3 separate regions of the Homo sapiens genome follow, and regions 2 and 3 are each linked to region 1. Evidence: fine-mapped expression QTL. A gene starts in region 1. Each other region holds a variant in brackets. All regions are shown on one strand. Distances are from middle to middle. Region 1 holds the start of ZNF239 (zinc finger protein 239). Region 2 has its middle 33 kb from the start of ZNF239. Region 3 has its middle 45 kb from the start of ZNF239.

Evidence for each region. PIP is the estimated chance that this variant, and not a neighbour inherited with it, causes the effect.
Region 2: its variant is the best candidate, but not a certain one, in a credible set for the expression of ZNF239 in whole blood (TOPMed, PIP 0.58).
Region 3: its variant is the best candidate, but not a certain one, in a credible set for the expression of ZNF239 in adrenal gland (GTEx, PIP 0.50).

The regions. Positions count from the first base shown.
Region 1 is chr10:43,572,292-43,577,934 of GRCh38, forward strand. It overlaps ZNF239 (zinc finger protein 239), which reads right to left and starts at 2,325. Exons shown (of 4, transcript NM_001099282.2): 1 at 2,249-2,325; 2 at 1,346-1,386. RefSeq lists a silencer at 2,048-2,107.
Region 2 is chr10:43,538,898-43,544,540 of GRCh38, forward strand. No RefSeq gene overlaps it. Among named protein-coding and RNA genes, the nearest start is that of ZNF239, 33 kb to the right of the region's middle. RefSeq lists an enhancer at 5,297-5,643. The variant T/G (reference allele first, on the strand shown) is at 2,595.
Region 3 is chr10:43,526,976-43,532,618 of GRCh38, forward strand. No RefSeq gene overlaps it. Among named protein-coding and RNA genes, the nearest start is that of ZNF239, 45 kb to the right of the region's middle. The variant T/C (reference allele first, on the strand shown) is at 2,662.

The DNA of each region.
Region 1 (5,643 bases):
AAGGTTAATCTCCCTTGAAGTCCTCAATTACTTTTCAGGGCACAGAGAAGCCATGCTCTCAGTACCTCAAGTCAGCTTACTGTCCTCTAAACAGATTTTTTCTAAGAGCTCATGTGTGTGAGGGCTGTATTTGCCAAGCAAAAAGATGGCCTTTGCTGGTAGTGTTAAAAAACATTTTTTTTCCCTTAAAACGCAGTCTGATATTTTATTCAAACAACTTCTGATGTGATGACCTGTTTAGTTAATGGAGAAAGAACAGCCTGAAGGAAGAAAACACGGGGTTTATTTCTGGCCTTCTGCTCTCTGAAACAAAGGACAAGGCACTTTCCTTCGGCTCTCTCAGAGTTAGCCGAGTTAGAGCTCTCCACCATAAAACGCCAGGACAGGGCAAAGAGGGGGCCGACCATCTCAAACACCATGGGATTCTAAGTGGGGGCTGACCATCTCAAATACCCTGGGAGTCTAAGGGTTAATTTTGAGGTAACCTCCTACAGATGGTTTTATGGGGACAACTGAAAACTCTCTTTAAAAAAGTACGACTTGGTAATTTAAAATTTACTGGAACAGTTAAATATGTAGACATGCTAGTGAAAGAGAACAAATCAACCTGAGTATAAAGGATGAATAACTCATTTTACCTACCCTAGAGACACTTATAGTGTATAGAGAGATATTTCACAATAAACCTTTGGATGTACAAAGATCAACAGAATAAAAAAGGAGTGAAACTCTCCTTTCACTAGGTCTGGAAGAGAGAAGGAAGCTTAGTTCTTAAAAAACACCACAGAGAGTTCTGATGCATAGCCTAGTTGAAAAGCATTTCTAGAGTGATTTTGTAACCACTGTGCTGCCATTTAACGAATTTCCTCGTTTTTGACTCATAGTTAATAAATTATCACTATTAATATGCATTTTTTTGTGTACAGGTAATATAATATGTTCATCAAGATGGTAAGCTCCTTGAAGAAAAGCACCGTGGTTTATCATTCTATCTGTTTTGCTGAGACCACTTAGCACTGGGATGAGTATGGAATAGCTTGGAATGACTTTCAATGTGAGTGAAATGTCTGGCAGGAAAAGGCAGGCTTTGAGAGGCTCCCCAGGAGGGCACAGCCCACTGCTCTGAGGAGTGGAATAAATTCTTGGAGGCAGGATGGGCCAGTGAAAACTCTCTGTGCAGACCCTGGTGACATCATCTGCTAGCTACATGTCCTTAGTATCTTAATGTCCCTACATCCATAGCTATAAAATACCGTACTGGGGGCCTGACAATAAAGAAAACAACACATGGCACAGGGACATTTCAGGGAGATGGCATTTTAGGAGAAATGGAACGCCAACTCACCCGGACCCTGGTCATTTCTTACTCCCAGAGGGGATGGATTCCTGGAAAGGCAGAGTTAGGGAAAGAGAAAAAGCCATGAAAATCAAGTCCAGCAAGACTGCGGGGAAAAAGTTACTCCGCTCCTGCCTCTGACGCTTCTTCAGTCACTTCCACCCACACTCCCTCCATCAGGTGAGAGGTGAAGCATTTTCTGTCACCACCTTCATCTCTCTCCACAGGGCTTTCGATTAAACAAGCCAAGTTTTCCCCCCAAAACCAAGAGGCTAGGTAAATTCCGCAGCCGCCGGCAGCTCGAAGCCGTGCCCATTTCCTCTGACTTTCCCGATCTCTGTCCTAAAGTTCTAGTTAAGAGGAGAAGCTTCTCGGGATGGATTTCGGTTGCCCAAGACGCCTTCCCCGACCTCATTCTCAGGAGCCTGGCTCGTTCCTGCGGTGCGGGGGCTCAGATGCAAGCTCTTTTCAGCGAAGGCAGTGCTGCGGACAGAAACCTCAGTCTCTTACAGGAGCCCCCGTCCGTCGCCTAACGTCCACCGAAAACCCCCCTGCAATAACGCCCGTCACAGGCGAGGAAAAGGCCGGCGTGGCCAACCACGAAGCCCCCAGCCGGCCCAGGCCAGAGCTCGGCCAGGAGGGAGGAGGGGCCATCGGAGGCGCGGCCGCTCAGCTGCAGGGCCCCACAGGCTTCGGTGTGGCCGCAGCCCGGCCCCGGGGGCGCAGCAGCTCGGAAATGCGGCGCCGGGACACACGTGCCGCCGCGGGCCGCGCCTCCGCTGGTCGCGTGCCCTACCATCGCCGCCCTCCCGGCTTCCGCAGCTCGGCGGCCCAGCGCCTTACCCGCGGCACACCCATTTCCTGACCCCTGAACGCCTCTGCCAGCGGCTGGGGAAGCCCGGCCAGTCTCACCTCCCACGTGGAACCCCACGCCTGCAGGGGCCAGATTCCGGATGCTGACCGCTCGCGCGCCTAGGGCCCCGAAATACAAGTCCCAGCAAGCCGCGGGCGAACCACGCCCACTTCCGGCGCGGGCCCCTGAACTCTGCGCTGTGCGGAGCGGGATTCTTGGGCGGAGGGGACCATCTTTGAGTCAGCGACGCGTGTATTCAAGTCCTCCTCCTCGTTTTTTATTACAAACAAATAAGAATTATTTTAGGAATACCTGTTAAGGTGATTTTCATTTGTTAAAATACTATTGGGGGAAAAGGATGTAAATACCCATAATTTCATCTTTACCTTTCAAAACATTCTGAAGTGAATATTTGCCATTCGGCATCTTCCATCTCACCTCTGAAGTTCATCCATTTAACAGATATTAATTGAGAGCCAACTGTGTACCAGGAGCTGTTCAAGATGCTTGCACAAAAGTCACTGCCCTATTCTAGTTGGGGAAACAAGCAATCCATAAATATAGTAAATATATGGCGTCGTGTGTGTCATGAGGTGGTACTGAAAGCATAGAGCTGGGCGGGGTGTGGCGAGGTGCGTTTGTGGGTGTGTAGGACTGGAGGTGTACTTTGCAATTTTAAATAGGGGATCTTGGAACAAACACAGGAGGTGAGGGAATTAGACAAGTGGCTCCCAGCAGTCAGAACTCTCCTAAACGCACACAAGGGTTGTTGATACCAGGATTTTACGTTTATTTCACTTCTCACCGAGTGACACAGAGCTACCCATTTGGTCTTTTCCCAATTCCTTTCTTTCAGATTTATTTTGGAGAGGAAAGAGATGTTGCCTGGACCTCTCTTCTACATCCTCCCCCTTCCTTGGTGTATTAGTTTCCAATTGCTGTCACAACAAATTAACACAAACTTAGTAGTATAACAAACATGTATTCTCTTAAACTTCTGGAGGTGCCAAGTCTGAAATCAAGTTTTACTGGGCTTTATAAAGTCAGTGTTGGTGGGGCTAGTTCCTCCTGGAGGTTCTAGATGAGAATATTTCTTTGCCTTTTCCAGTTCCCAGTGACTATTTGCATTCCTTGGCTTATGGCTCGCTCCTTTATCTTCAAAGTGCATGACTGCAACCTCTGCCTTCATCATCACATCACATGCTCAGGCACTGGCTCCTCGTGGGTCCTTCTAATAACGACTGTTGTGATTACATCAGGCCCAGCTGGCTAATCTGGGATAATCTCTTGACGTCAAGATCCTTAATTTAATCACATTTCAAAAAAAATCCCTCTTGCCATAGAAATTAACATCCACAGCTTCTGGGGGTTAGGACATGGACATATTTGGGGGACTATTATTTTCAGCCTGCGATGCTTGGAGAGGCCCACGTCCCCTTCGGTCTCCTCCTCAGAGATGCTGTCTTACCTTTTGCCTGGGGAACACAAAATGTCTCCCTTGGACCTTACTCCTCTCCTCATTCTTCATTGGAAAACCACAGAGCTTTTCCCTATTTAGATTTACCACCCTTGCCCTGACCTTCACTTCCTCATGTGCTCACTTCTCTCCTCACTCAATTTAAGAGGCCATGGAGCATGGTTATGGCCAGTCCTGTGTATGTGCCGTTACCCTTAACTCTCTTGTCCCAGTCTTTCTTGGTTTTATTCTCTTGATGGAAACCCAAATCTGCTTGAATCCAGTTCCTGGCCTGCGCCTGTACGGCAGAGGTTGTTTGAGAAAACCACATGGCTGGGATGATTGGTTTCATTTTCAGTTTATAACCATTAAGTTCAAGTGGGCCCTTCACGCTGCCTGGCTATCCTTCTACATTTCTTAGTCCATCCATTCTCCTAAATGACTATTTCACAGGTTCTACTCTCTTTTCATTATTTATTTATTTATTTTTTTGAGCCAGGCTGGAGTTCAGTAGTGCGATCTTGGCTGACTGCAATCTCTGCTTCCTGGGCACAAGCAACCCTCCCACCTCAGCCTCCTAAGTAGCTGGGACTATAGGCTTGCGCCACCACACCAGGCTAATTTTTGTATTTTTTTTTTTAAGAGATGAAGTTTCACCATGTTGTTCGGGCTGGTCTCCACCTCCTGGGATCAAGCGATCGTCCCACCTCAGCCTCCCAAAGTGCTGGGATTACAGGCTGAGCCACCATGCCTGGTCTTCTACTCTCTTTTCAAGCCGCCAACAACTCCTCCCATCTCACTGAGTGCTGATGACTTTGCTTTCTGTTACTGAGTAAAGAGAACTTCTATACCGCCTCACAGGCACATCTGCCCTCCTCTCTGCATTAGAAACTGTATGCTCTACTTTTCATTCTGAGTCACTGGCCCTAGTTCCTATATGAGAAAATTCTTTTGCACCCTGGATGTTAAATGCTTTCTCATGAATGAGGTCCTTCTCTCTCTTCTGTATTTCAAGATTTTCATTCTGTACTGAATTATCAGCATACTAATGAATACACTGTAATATTGTCCATAAAATAAATAAAACCCCTTACCTTGCACCCTATTTCTCTCCAGCCACTACCTCATTTCTCTGCTTTGCTTTACAGCAAAACTCCTAAAAAAATTGTCCCTAAGGGATGTTTCCAATTTCTTTTCTCCCATATTCTCTCTTTTTTCACATGCAAAACCCAAAATTTAATTTTTAACTTAATTTTAAAAATTGGTATATAATAGATGCACATATTTTGGGGGTACATGTGATAATTTGATTAATATTATGTGTAAAGATCAAAGCAGGGAAATTGGGATATCTATCGCCAAGTATTTGTCTTTTCTGTATGCCGGAAATATTCAAATGATTCTCTTCTGGCTATTTTGAAATGTACAGTAGGTTAATGTTAACCATAGCTAACCTACTGGTTTATTGAACACCAGGTCTTATTTTTTCTGTCTAACTGTGTATTACACCTTGGTATGTTTTGGCTCTGTGTCCCCACCCAAATCTCATCTTGAATTGTAATTCCCACGTGTTGAGGGAGGGACCTGTAATTCCCACAAGTGGAGGGAGGGAGGTGATTGGATCACAAGGGGCAGTTTCCCCCATGGTGTTCTCATGACAGTGAGTGAGCTCTCACAAGATCTGATGGTTTGTGAGATATGTTTGGAAGTTCCTCCTTTGTTCTTCTCTCTCCTGCCACCTTGTGAAGAAGGTGACTGCTTCTTCTTCCAACATGATTGTAAGTTTCCTGAGGCCTCCCCAGCCATGTGGAAGTGTGAGTCAATTAAACCTCTTTTCTTTATAAATTACCCAGTCTCAGGCATTTTTTTATAGCAGTGTGAAAAAAGACTAATACATACCCCTTAACCAGCCTCTATTCAGACCCCTACCTCTACTCTTTCTGAACTCTGGTTACCACCAATCTACTCTCTATCTTCATGAAATCCACTTGTTTTTTT
Region 2 (5,643 bases), 33 kb before region 1:
TATGGAAAATAGAAAGAATCTACATTGAAATATTGGGGGCTGTTTCCCCCGATATTTTTCCTTCCTTCTTTCTTTTCTTTCTTTCTCTTTTTTCTCTCTCTTTCTTCTTTCTTTCTCTCTCCTTCCCTTCCTTCCCCTCCTTCTCTTCTCTTCTCTTTCTTTTTTTCAGAGTCTTGCTCTGTCTCACAGGCTGGAGTGTAGTGGTGCCATCTTGGCTCACCACAACTTCCACCTCCCAGGTTCAAGCAATTCTCCTGCCTCAGCCTTCTGAGTAGCTGGGATTACAGGCGTGAGCCATCATGCCCAACTAATTTTTGTATTTTTAATATAGACAGGGTTTCACTGTGTTGGCCAGGCTGGTCTGGAGCTCCTGACTTCAGGTGATCCACCTGCCTCAGCCTCCCAAAGTGCTGGGATTACATGCATGAGCCTCCTCTTTGTCTCTTTGCCTTCTTTCCTTTTTTCCTTCCTTCCTTCCTTCCTTCTTTCCTTCCTTCTCTCTCTTTCTTTCTTCTTTCTCTCTCTCTCTCTTTCTTTCTTGTTTTAAGACAGAATCTTGGCTGGGTGCGGTGGCTCATGCCTGTAATCCCAGCACTTTGGGAGGCTGAGGTGGGTGGATCACGATGTCAGGAGATTGAGACCATCCTGGCTGACATGGTGAAATCCCATCTCTACTAAAAATACAAAAAAAATTAGCCAGGTGTGGTGGTGGATGCCTGTAATCCCAGCTACTCGGGAGGCTGAGGCAGGAGAATGGCATGAACCTGGGAGGTGGAGCTTGCAGTGAGCTGAGATCGCACCACTGCACTCCAGCATGGGTGACAGAGTGAGACTCCATCTCAAAAAAAAAAAAAAAAAAAGAGTCTTGCTCTGTCACCCAGGCTGCAGTGCAGTGGCACAATCTTGACTCACTGCAACTCTGCTTCCCAGGTTCAAGTGATTCTCTTGCCTCAACCTCCTGAGTAATGGGATTATAGGCATGTGCCACCACACCTAGCTAATTTTTGTATTTTTATTAGAGAGGGGGTTTCTTCATGTTGGGCAGGCTAGTCTTGAACTCCTAGCCTCAAGCCATCCACCTGCCTCAGCCTTCCAAAGTGCTGGATTTTGGGTGTGAGCCACTGTGCCTGGTCTCACATAGCCTTTCTTTGGTGCTTCAGTGCAGAGAGAGAGAGAGACAGAGAGCTCCCTGATGTCTCTCCCTATAAGGATACCAATCCTATCAGAGCCGGATGCCACCCTTATGACCTCATTTTACCTTAGTTGCATCCTTAATTGAGGATGTAATTTGGAGGCAGAATCTCCAAATACAGCTGTATTGGGGATTATGACTTCAACATAGGAGACGCAAACATTCAGTCCATAACAAAAGCTTAAAATGAGCCTTTCAGGCCCCAATTACTCAGCCTTTTCTCCTCCCATTGGAGCCTCTATCTCTTCATCTATAAGTGGGTAGAATTATCTATATCTGGAAGAGTGGAACTAAGCCTTGAACAAACCATTATTACTTGTCTAATGTGTGCCCCCTGCCTCGTGCTCAGTGGGTCCAGGAGAGGGAGCTCAGATGTTAAGGCTGCACAAGTACAGCTTAGCGCCTGGGTGCCATCATGTTCTGTGGTCTCAGAGTAACATTCTGTTAAAGAGAAAGGGAAATTGAGAGAGATTAGGAACCACACTCAGTCTCCGTGGAGTGTTAGGGCCCTCATGTCTTCCTCAGCATTGATAGTTCCTGGGTTCATGGCTGATATGGTCAGGATGTGTGTCCCCTCCACATTTCATGTTGAAATATGACCTCCACTGTCAGAGGTCGGGCCTAGTGAGGTACTGGATCATGGGGGCGGATCCCTCATGAATGGCTTAGCACCATTCCCTTGGTGATGAGTGAGTTCTTGGTCAGTTCTCTGGAGAGCTGAGTGCCGGTTGTTTTAAAGAGTTTGGCCCCTCCTTCCTCAGGTCTCTCTTCTTCCTCTCTTGCCATGTGATGCACTGGCTCACCCTTTGCCTTCCAGCATCATTGGAAGCTTCCTGAAGCCCTCAGCAGAAGCTGAGCAGATGCTGGCACCATGCTTCCTGTACAGCCTGCAGAACCATGAGCCAAGTAAGCCTCTTTTCATAAATTACCAGCCTCAGCTGTTCCTTTATGGCAATGCGATAATGGGCTAACACAGTGGCCCTGGGCTCAGGATTAACAAGGCTGTGCTAGCACCAAGCAATCATACTGGAAGGCTGAGGTGGGAGGATCACTTGAGCTGCGGAGGTCAAGGCTGTGATGAGTTTCCTGGAGTCAAATGATTCTCATGCCTCAGCCTCTTGAGTAGCTGGGATTATAGGTCTGCACCATCACACCCAGCTAATTTTTGTATTTTTAGTAGAGACGGGGTTTCACCATGTTGGCCAGGCTGGTCTTGAACTCCTGGCCTCAAGTGATCCTCCTGCTTCAGCCTCACAAAGTGCTGGGATTACTGGCACAAACCACTGTGCCTGGCCCAAGTAATTGTTTTGTATTGATTGAATTTTTCTTTGTTTCTTACACTTCAGTTTAGATTTTAGGGTATATGTATACTTATAAAAAAATGAGATCATGTCTTAAATAT[T/G]CTTTCTTTTTTGAGACAGAGTCTTGCTCTGTTGCCCAGTGCCCAGGCTGGAGTGTATTGGTGTGGTCTCGGTTCACTGCAACCTCTGCCCTCTGGGTTCACGCGATTCTCCTGCCTAAGCCTCCCAAGTAGCTGGGATTACAGGTGCTCACCACCATGCCCGGCTAATTTTTGTATTTTTAGTAGAGTTGGTAGAGACAGGGTTTCACCATGTTGGCCATGCTGGTCTCAAACTCCCGACCTCAAGTGATCCACCTGGCTCAGCCTCCCAAAGTGCTAGGATTACAGGGGTGAGCCACTGTACCCAGCCAATGTTCTTGTGTAACTTGCATTTAAAATTTTGTGATATGCTGTGAACTCTTTCCATGCCCCATTCTATCTTGAAAATATGCTTAATGGCCAAATATTTTTCCACTTTTCAAAACTGCATTTGGGTTTACCCATATCCTATATTTTGACATTTAGACAACTTCTGCTTTTGCTCGTGTAGGGGATTATTCCATTAAAAGTAGACAAGATAATTTTGATCAACCTGTGTAATAAAGAAAATGGACAAAGCTGAAAAAAATATTTTAGGCTGGGTGCAGTGGCTCTTGCCTGTAATATCAGCACTTTGGGAGGCCGAGGCAGGCGGATCACATGAGGTCAGGAGTTTGAGACCAGGTTGGCCAACATGGTGAAACCCCATCTCTACCAAAAATACAAAAAATAGCCAGGCTTTGTGGCACATGCCTGTAATCCCAGCTACTGGGGAGGCTGAGGCATGAGAATCACTTGAACCCAGGAGGTGGATGTTGCAGTGGGCCAAGATGCATCAATGCACTACAGCCTGGGTGACAGAGTGAGACTCTGTCTCGAAAAAAATAAAAATACTTTCAACATTCTTTCTAAGCACATAAATAATAAGACAGTGATCACTGGGGTATGATGTAAAAAGAATGGGAATTCCATGTCAGCACAACGTATGAGGCTGCCTTTGCTCTGGAGACTCAGGCTGACCTGAGAGAGGTAATAGGCTGAGGTTTGCTTTTAAGGGTGTTGCAGGGATGATGGGGCAGAAAGAGACCTCTGTGGCCCATGGATGAGATGGACCAGGATACCTCTGCCTTGACCGGACCCTTGGAAGATTCTGTACAGGTAGCATGAACAAAAAGAAAATCAGCCTTCCCACAAATTGCAGTGGACTTCAAGATGTTTGGAAAGCCCAGAACATTCTTCAGCCCTGAAATCTCCTTTTATTTTTATTTTTTTTTTTGAGATATGGTCTTGCTCTGTTGCCCAGGCTGGAGTGCAGTGGTGTGATCATGGCTCACTGCATTCTCAACTTCCTGGGCTCAAATGATCCTCCCAAATAGCTGGGACTACAGGCATGTGCCACCATGCCCAGGAATTTTTTTTTTTTTTTTTTTTTTTGTAGAGATAGGGTCTGTTGTCCAGTTGCCCAGGCTGGTCTCAAACTCTTTGACTCAAGCAATCCTCCTGCCTTGGCCTCCCAAAGTGTTGGGATTATAGGCATGAGGCACTGCACCTAACACGAAATTCCTTTAAAGATATCAAGGAGTGTGTCCCCCGTTAGCAGCAAGAAAAATTCCTCTGGAGGAGGAAACATCATCTTAGGTCTCTCTCTCTTCTTTTTTTTTTTTTTTGAGACGGAGTCTCGCTATGTCATCCAGGCTGGAGAGCAGTGGTGTGATCTCGGCTCACTGCAACCTCCACCTCCCAGGTTCAAGCAATTCTCTGCCTCAGCCTCCAGAGTAGCTGGGATTACAGGAGCCCACTACTATGCTTGGCTAATTTATTTTTATTTTTATTTATTCATTTATTTTTGAGACAGAGTCTTGCTCTGTCCCCCAGGCTGGAGTGCAGTGGCACAATCTCGGCTCACTGCAATCTCTGCCTCCTGGGTTCACGCCATTCTCCTGCCTCAGACTCCCAGGTAGCTGGGATTACAGGTGCCCACCACCACGCCCGGCTAATTTTTTGTATTTTTAGTAGAGACAGCGTTTCATCGTGTTAGCCAGGATGGTCTTGACCTCCTGATCTCGTGATCCACCCGCCTTGGCCTCCCAAAGTGCTGGGATTACAGGAGTGAGCCACCACACCTGGCTTCTTTTTTTTTTTTTTTTTTTAGAGCTAGAAGAGAACATCATACACATAAATTCATTGCATTATACAAATAAACACCTGATTGACAGATCACATCATGTGAAATTTATATAGAAAATAATTGATACAGGTTATAATAATTTATGCAAAGATAATATTAGAAAAATTGGAAAAGATTAAATTATGCAGAATTGAAAATTCACTTAAGAATAAAAGAGGCATCTGGGAGGTGAGGAGTGCCTCTGCCCGGCCGCCCCGTCTGGGAAGTGAGGAGCGCCTCTGCCCGGCTGCCCATCATCTGGGAAGTGAGGAGCACCTCTGCCCGGCTGCCCATCATCTGGGAAGTGAGGAGCACCTCTGCCCTGCCACCCATAGTCTGGGAGGTGAGGAGCGCCTCTGCCTGGCTGCCCTGTCTGGGGAGTGAGGAGCGCCTCTGCCCGGCTGCCCCGTCTGGGGAGTGAGAAGCGCCTCTGCCTGGCTGCTGTGCAATCTTCCAAGTGTGAAGTGACAGCCTTTCTGCAGGTGTACCCAACAGCTCCAAAGAGACAGCGACCATCAAGAACGGGCCATGATGACGATGGCGGTTTTGTCGAAAAGAAAAGGGGGAAATGTGGGGAAAAGAAAGAGAGATCAGATTGTTACTGTGTCTGTGTAGAAAGAAGTAGACATAGGAGACTCCATTTTGTTCTGTACTAAGAGAAATTCTTCTGCCTTGGGATGCTGTTAATCTATTACCTTACCCCCAACCCCGTGCTCTCTGAAACATGTGCTGTGTCCACTCAGGGTTAAATGGATTAAGGGCGGTGCAAGATGTGCTTTGTTAAACAGATGCTTGAAGGCAGCATGCTCGTTAAGAGTCATCACCACTCCCTAATCTCAAGTACCCAGGGACACAAACACTGCAGAAGGCCGCAGGGTCCTCTGCCTAGGAAAACCAGAGACC
Region 3 (5,643 bases), 45 kb before region 1:
GTGACATTGAGAAAAATCAGAGAAGATGAACCAGGCTTGGTAGCTCATGCCTGTAATTATCTGGAGGCTGACTGGGGAGGATTGCTCGAGCCTGGGAGTTCAAAGCCATCCTGGGCTCACAAAAAAATGGTGGGGGGCAGGTGGGAATTTTGATGCTTAAATTCCTTGGTTCCTTCTGTAGTGGATTTCTTCTTTTTTTTTTTTATTATACTTTAAGTTCTAGGGTACATGTGCACAATGTGCAGGTTTGATGCATAGGTATACATGTGCCATGTTGGTTTGCTGCATCCATCAACTCATCATTTACATTAGGTATTTCTCCTAATGCTATCCCTCCCCCAGCCCCCCATCCCCTGACAGGCCCTGGTGTGTGATGTTCCCCTTCCTGTGTCCAAGTGATCTCATTGTTCAATTCCCACCCATGAGTGAGAACATGTGGTGTTTGCTTTTCTGTCCTTGTGATAGTTTTTTGAGAATGATGGTTTCCAGCTTCATCCATGTCCCTGCAAAGGACATGAACTCATCATTTTTTATGGTTGCATAGTATTCCATGGTGTACATGTGCCAAATTTTCTTAATCCAGTCTATCATTGATGGACATTTGGGTTGGTTCCAAGTCTTTATTATTGTGAATAGTGCCACAATAAACATATGTGTGCATATGTCTTTATAGTAGCATGATTTATAATCCTTTGGGTGTATATACCCAGTAATGGGATTGCTGGGTCGTATGGTAATTCTAGTTCAAGATCCTTGAGGAATCGCCACACTGTCTTCCACAATGTTTGAACTAATTTACACTCCCACCAACAGTGTAAAAGTGTTCCTATTTCTCCACATCCTCTCCAGCATCTGTTGTTTCCCGACTTTTTAATGATTGCCATTCTAACTGGCAAGAATGGTATCTCATTGTGGTTTTGATTTGTATTTCTCTGATGACCAGTGGTGATGAGCATTTTTTCATGTGTCTGTTGGCTGCATAGATGTCTTCTTTTTTTTTTTTTTTTTGAGACGGAGTCTTGCTCTGTTGCCCAGGCTCGAGTGCAGTGGCGTGATCTTGGCTCACTGCAAGCTCTGCCTCCCGGGTTCATGCCATTCTTCTGCCTTAGCCTCCGGCGCTTGCCACCATGCCCAGCTAATTTTTTTTGTTTTGTATTTTTAGTAGAGACAGGGTTTCACCATGTTAGCCAGGATGGTCTCGATCTCCAGACCTCGTGATCCACCCGCCTCAGCCTCCCAAAGTGCTGGGATGACAGCCATGAGCCACCGCACCCAGACAGATGTCTTCTTTTGAGAAGTGTCTGTTCATATCCTTTGCCCACTTTTTGATGGGGTTGTTTGTTTTTTTTCTTGTAAATTTGTTTGACTTCTTTGTAGATTCTGGATATTAGCCCTTTATCAGATGGGTAGATTGCAAAAATTTTCTCCCATTCTGTAGGTTGCCTGTTCACTCTGATGGTAGTTTCTTTTGCTGTGCAGAAGCTCTTTAGTTTAATTAGATCCCATTTGTCAATTTTGGCTTTTGTTGCCATTGCTTTTGGTGTTTTAGTCATGAAGTCCTTGCCCATGCCAATGTCCTGAATGGCATTGCCTAGGTTTTCTTCTAGGGTTTTTTATGGTTTTAGGTCTAACATTTAAGTCTTTAATCCATCTTGAATTAATTTTTGTATAAGGTGTAAGGAAGGGATCCAGTTTCTGCTTTCTACATATGGCTAGCCAGTTTTCCCAGCACCATTTATTAAATAGGGAATCCTTTCCCCATTTCTTGTTTTTGTCAGGTTTGTCAAAGATCAGATGGTTGTAGATGTGTGGTGTTATTTCTGAGGGCTCTGTTCTGTTCCATTGGTCTACATATCTGTTTTGATACCAGTACCATGCTGTTTTGGTTACTGTAGCCTTGTAGTATAGTTTGAAGTCAGGTAGCTTGATGCCTCCAGCTTTGTTTTTTTTGCTTAGGATTGTCTTGGCAATGCGGGCTCTTTTTTGGTTCTATATGAACTTTAAAGTAGTTTTTTCTAATTCTGTGAAGAAAGTCATTGGTAGCTTGATGGGGATGGCATTGAATCTATAAATTACTTTGGGCATTATGGCCATTTTCACAATATTGATTCTTCCTATCCATGAGCATGGAATATTCTTCCATTTGTTTGTGTCCTCTTATTTTGTTGAGCAGTGGTTTGTAGTTCTCCTTGAAGGGGTCCTTCACATCCCTTGTAAGTTGGATTCCTAGGTATTTTATTGTCTTTGTAGCAATTGTGAATAGGAGTTCACTCATAATTTGGCTCTCTGTTTGTCTGTTATTGGTGTATAGGAATGCTTGTGATTTTTGCACATTGATTTTGTGTCCTGAGACTTTGCTGAAGTTGCTTATCAGCTTAAGGAAATTTTGGGCTGAGATGATGGGGTTTTCTAAATATACAATAATGTCATCTGCAAACAGGGACAATTTGATTTCCTCTTATCCTAATTGAATACCCTTTTTTTCTTTCTCTTGCCTGATTGCCCTGGCCAGAACTTCCAACACTATGTTGAATAGGAGTGGTGAGAGAGGGCATCCCTGTCTTGTGCTGGTTTTCAAAGGGAATGCTTCCAGTTTTTGCCCATTAAGTATGATATTGGCTGTGGGTTTGTCATAAATAGCTCTTATCATTTTGAGATATG[T/C]TCCATCAACACCTAGTTTATTGAGAGTTTTTAGCATGAAGGGCTGTTGAATTTTGTCAAAGGCCTTTTCTGCATCTATTGAGATAATCATGTGGTTTTTTGTTGTTGGTTCTGTTTATGTGATGGATTATGTTTATTGATTTGCATATATTGAACCAGCCTTGCATCCCAGGGATAAAGCCCACTTGATCGTGGTGGATAAGCTTTTTAATGTGCTACTGGATTCAGTTTGCCAGTATTTTATTGAGGATTTTTGCATTGATGTTCATCAGGGATATTGGTCTAAAATTCTCTTTTTTTGTTGTGTCTCTGCCAGGCTTTGGTATCAGGATGATGCTGGCCTCATAAAATGAGTTAGGGAGGATTCCCTCTTTTTCTATTGATTGGAATAGTTTCAGAAGGAATGGTACCAGCTCGTCTTTCTAGCTGTGGTAGAATTCAGCTGTGAATCCGTCTGGTCCTGGACTTTTTTTGGTTGGTAGGCTATTAATTATTGCCTCAATTTGAGAGCCTGTTATTGGTCTATTCAGAGATTCAACTTCTTCCCGGTTTAGTCTTGGGAGAGTGTATGTGTCCAGGAATTTATCCATTTCTTCTAGATTTTCTAGTTTATTTGCATAGAGGTGTTTATAGTATTCTCTGGTGGTAGTTTGTATTTCTGTTAGATCAGTGGTGATATCCCCTTTATCATTTTTTATTGTGTCTATTTGATTCTTTTCTCTTTTCTTCTTTATTAGTCTTGCTAGTGGTCTATCGATTTTGTTGCTCTTTTAAAAAAAACCAGCTCCTGGATTCATTGATTTTTTTGAAGGGTATTTTTGTATCTCTATATTTTTCAGTTCTGCTCTGATCTTAGTTATTTCTTGCCTTCTGCTACCTTTTGAATTTGTTTGCTCTTGCTTCTCTGATTGTTTTAATTGCGATGTTAGGGTGTTGATTTTAGATCTTTCCTGCTTTCTCTTGTGGGCATTTAGTGCTGTAAATTTCCCTCTACACACTGCTTTAAATGTGTCCTAGAGATTCTGATATGTTGTGTCTTTGTTCTCATTGGTTTCAAAGAACATCTTTATTTCTGCCTTCATTTCGTTATTTACCCAGTAGTCATTCCAGGGCAAGTTGTTTAGTTTCCATGTAGTTGTGTGGTTTTGAGTGAGTTTCTTAATCCTGAGTTCTAATTTGATTGCACTGTGATCTGAGACACAGTTTGTTGTGATTTCTTTTACATTTGCTGAGGAGTGCTGTACTTCCAATTATGTGGTCACTTTTAGAATAAGTGCTATGTGGTGATGAGAAGAATGTATATTCTGCTGCTTTGGGCTGGAGAGTTCTGTAGATGTCTATTAGGTCTGCTTGTTGCAGAGCTGAGTTCAGGTCCTGCATATCCTTGTTAACCTTTTGTCTTGTTGATCTGTCTAATATTGACAGAGGGGTGTTAAAGTCTCCCATTATTATTGTGTGGGAGTCTAAGTCTCTTTGTAGGTCTCTAAGGTCTTGCTTTATGAATGTGGATGCTCCTGTATTGGGTGCACATATATTTAGGATAGTTAGCTTTTCTTGTTTAATTGATCCCTTTACCATTATGTAATGGGGTTCTTTGTCTCTTTTGATCTTTGTTGGTTTAAAGTCTGTTTTATCAGAGACTAGGATTGTAACCCCTGCCTTTTTTTGTTTTCCATTTGCTTGGTAGATCTCCTCCATCCCTTTATTTTGAGCCTATATGTGTCTCTGCACATGAGATGGGTCTCCTGAATACAGCACACTGATGGGTCTTGACTCTTTATCCAATTTGCCAGTCTGTGTCTTTTAATTGGAGCATTTAGCCCATTTACATCTAAGGTTAATATTGTTATGTGTGAATTTGATCCTGTCATTATGATGTTAGCTGGTTATTTTGCCCATTAATTGATGTAGTTTCTTCATAGCATCGATGGTCTTTACAATTTGGCATGTTTTTGCAGTGGCTGGTACTGGTTGTTTCTTTCTATGTTTAGTGCTTCCTTCAGGAGCATTTGTAAGGCAGGCCTGGTGGTGACAAAATCTCTCAGCATTTGCTTGTCTGTAAAGGATTTTATTTCTCCTTCACTTATGAAGCTTAGATGGATATGAAATTCTGGGTTGAAAATTCTTTTCTTTAAGAATGTTGAATATTGGCCCCCACTCTCTTCTGGCTTGCAGGGTTTCTGCCGAGAGGTCTGTTCTCTGATGGGCTTCCCTTTGTGGGTAACTCGACCTTTCTCTCTGGCTGCCTTAACATCTTTTCGTTTGTTTCAATCTTGGTGAATCTGACAATTATGTGTCTTGGGGTTGCTCTTCTCGCGGAGTATCTTTGTGGTGTTCTCTTTATTTCCTGAATTTGAATGTTGGTCTGCCTTGCTAGGTTGGGGAAGTTCTCCTGGATAATATCCTGAATAGTGTTTTCCAACTTGGTTCCATTCTCCTTGTCACTTTCATGTACACCAATCAGATGTAGATTTGGTCTTTTCACATAGTCCCATATTTCTTGGAGGCTTTGTTCGTTTCTTTTTAGTCTTTTTTCTCTAACCTTGTCTTCTTGCTTTATTTCATTAATTTGATCTTCAATCATTGATACCCTTTCTTCCACTTGATTGAATTGGCTATTGAAGCTTGTGCATGCGTCACGAAGTTCTCGTGCCATGGTTTTCAACTCCATCAGGTTATTTAAGGTCTTCTCTACACTGTTTATTCTAGTTAGCCATTTGTCTAATTTTTTTTTTAACGTTTTTAGCTTCCTTGCGATGGGTTTGAACATCCTCCTTTAGCTCCGAGAAGTTTGTTATTACCGACCTTCTGAAGCCTACTTCTGTCAACTCGTCAAAGTCATTCTCCATCCAGCTTTTTTCCATTGCTGGCGAGGAGCCACAATCCTTTGGAGGAGAAGAAGCACTCTGATTTTTAGAATTTTTAGCTTTTCTGTTCTAGTTTCTCTGCATCTTTGTGGTTTTATCTACCTTTGATCTTTGA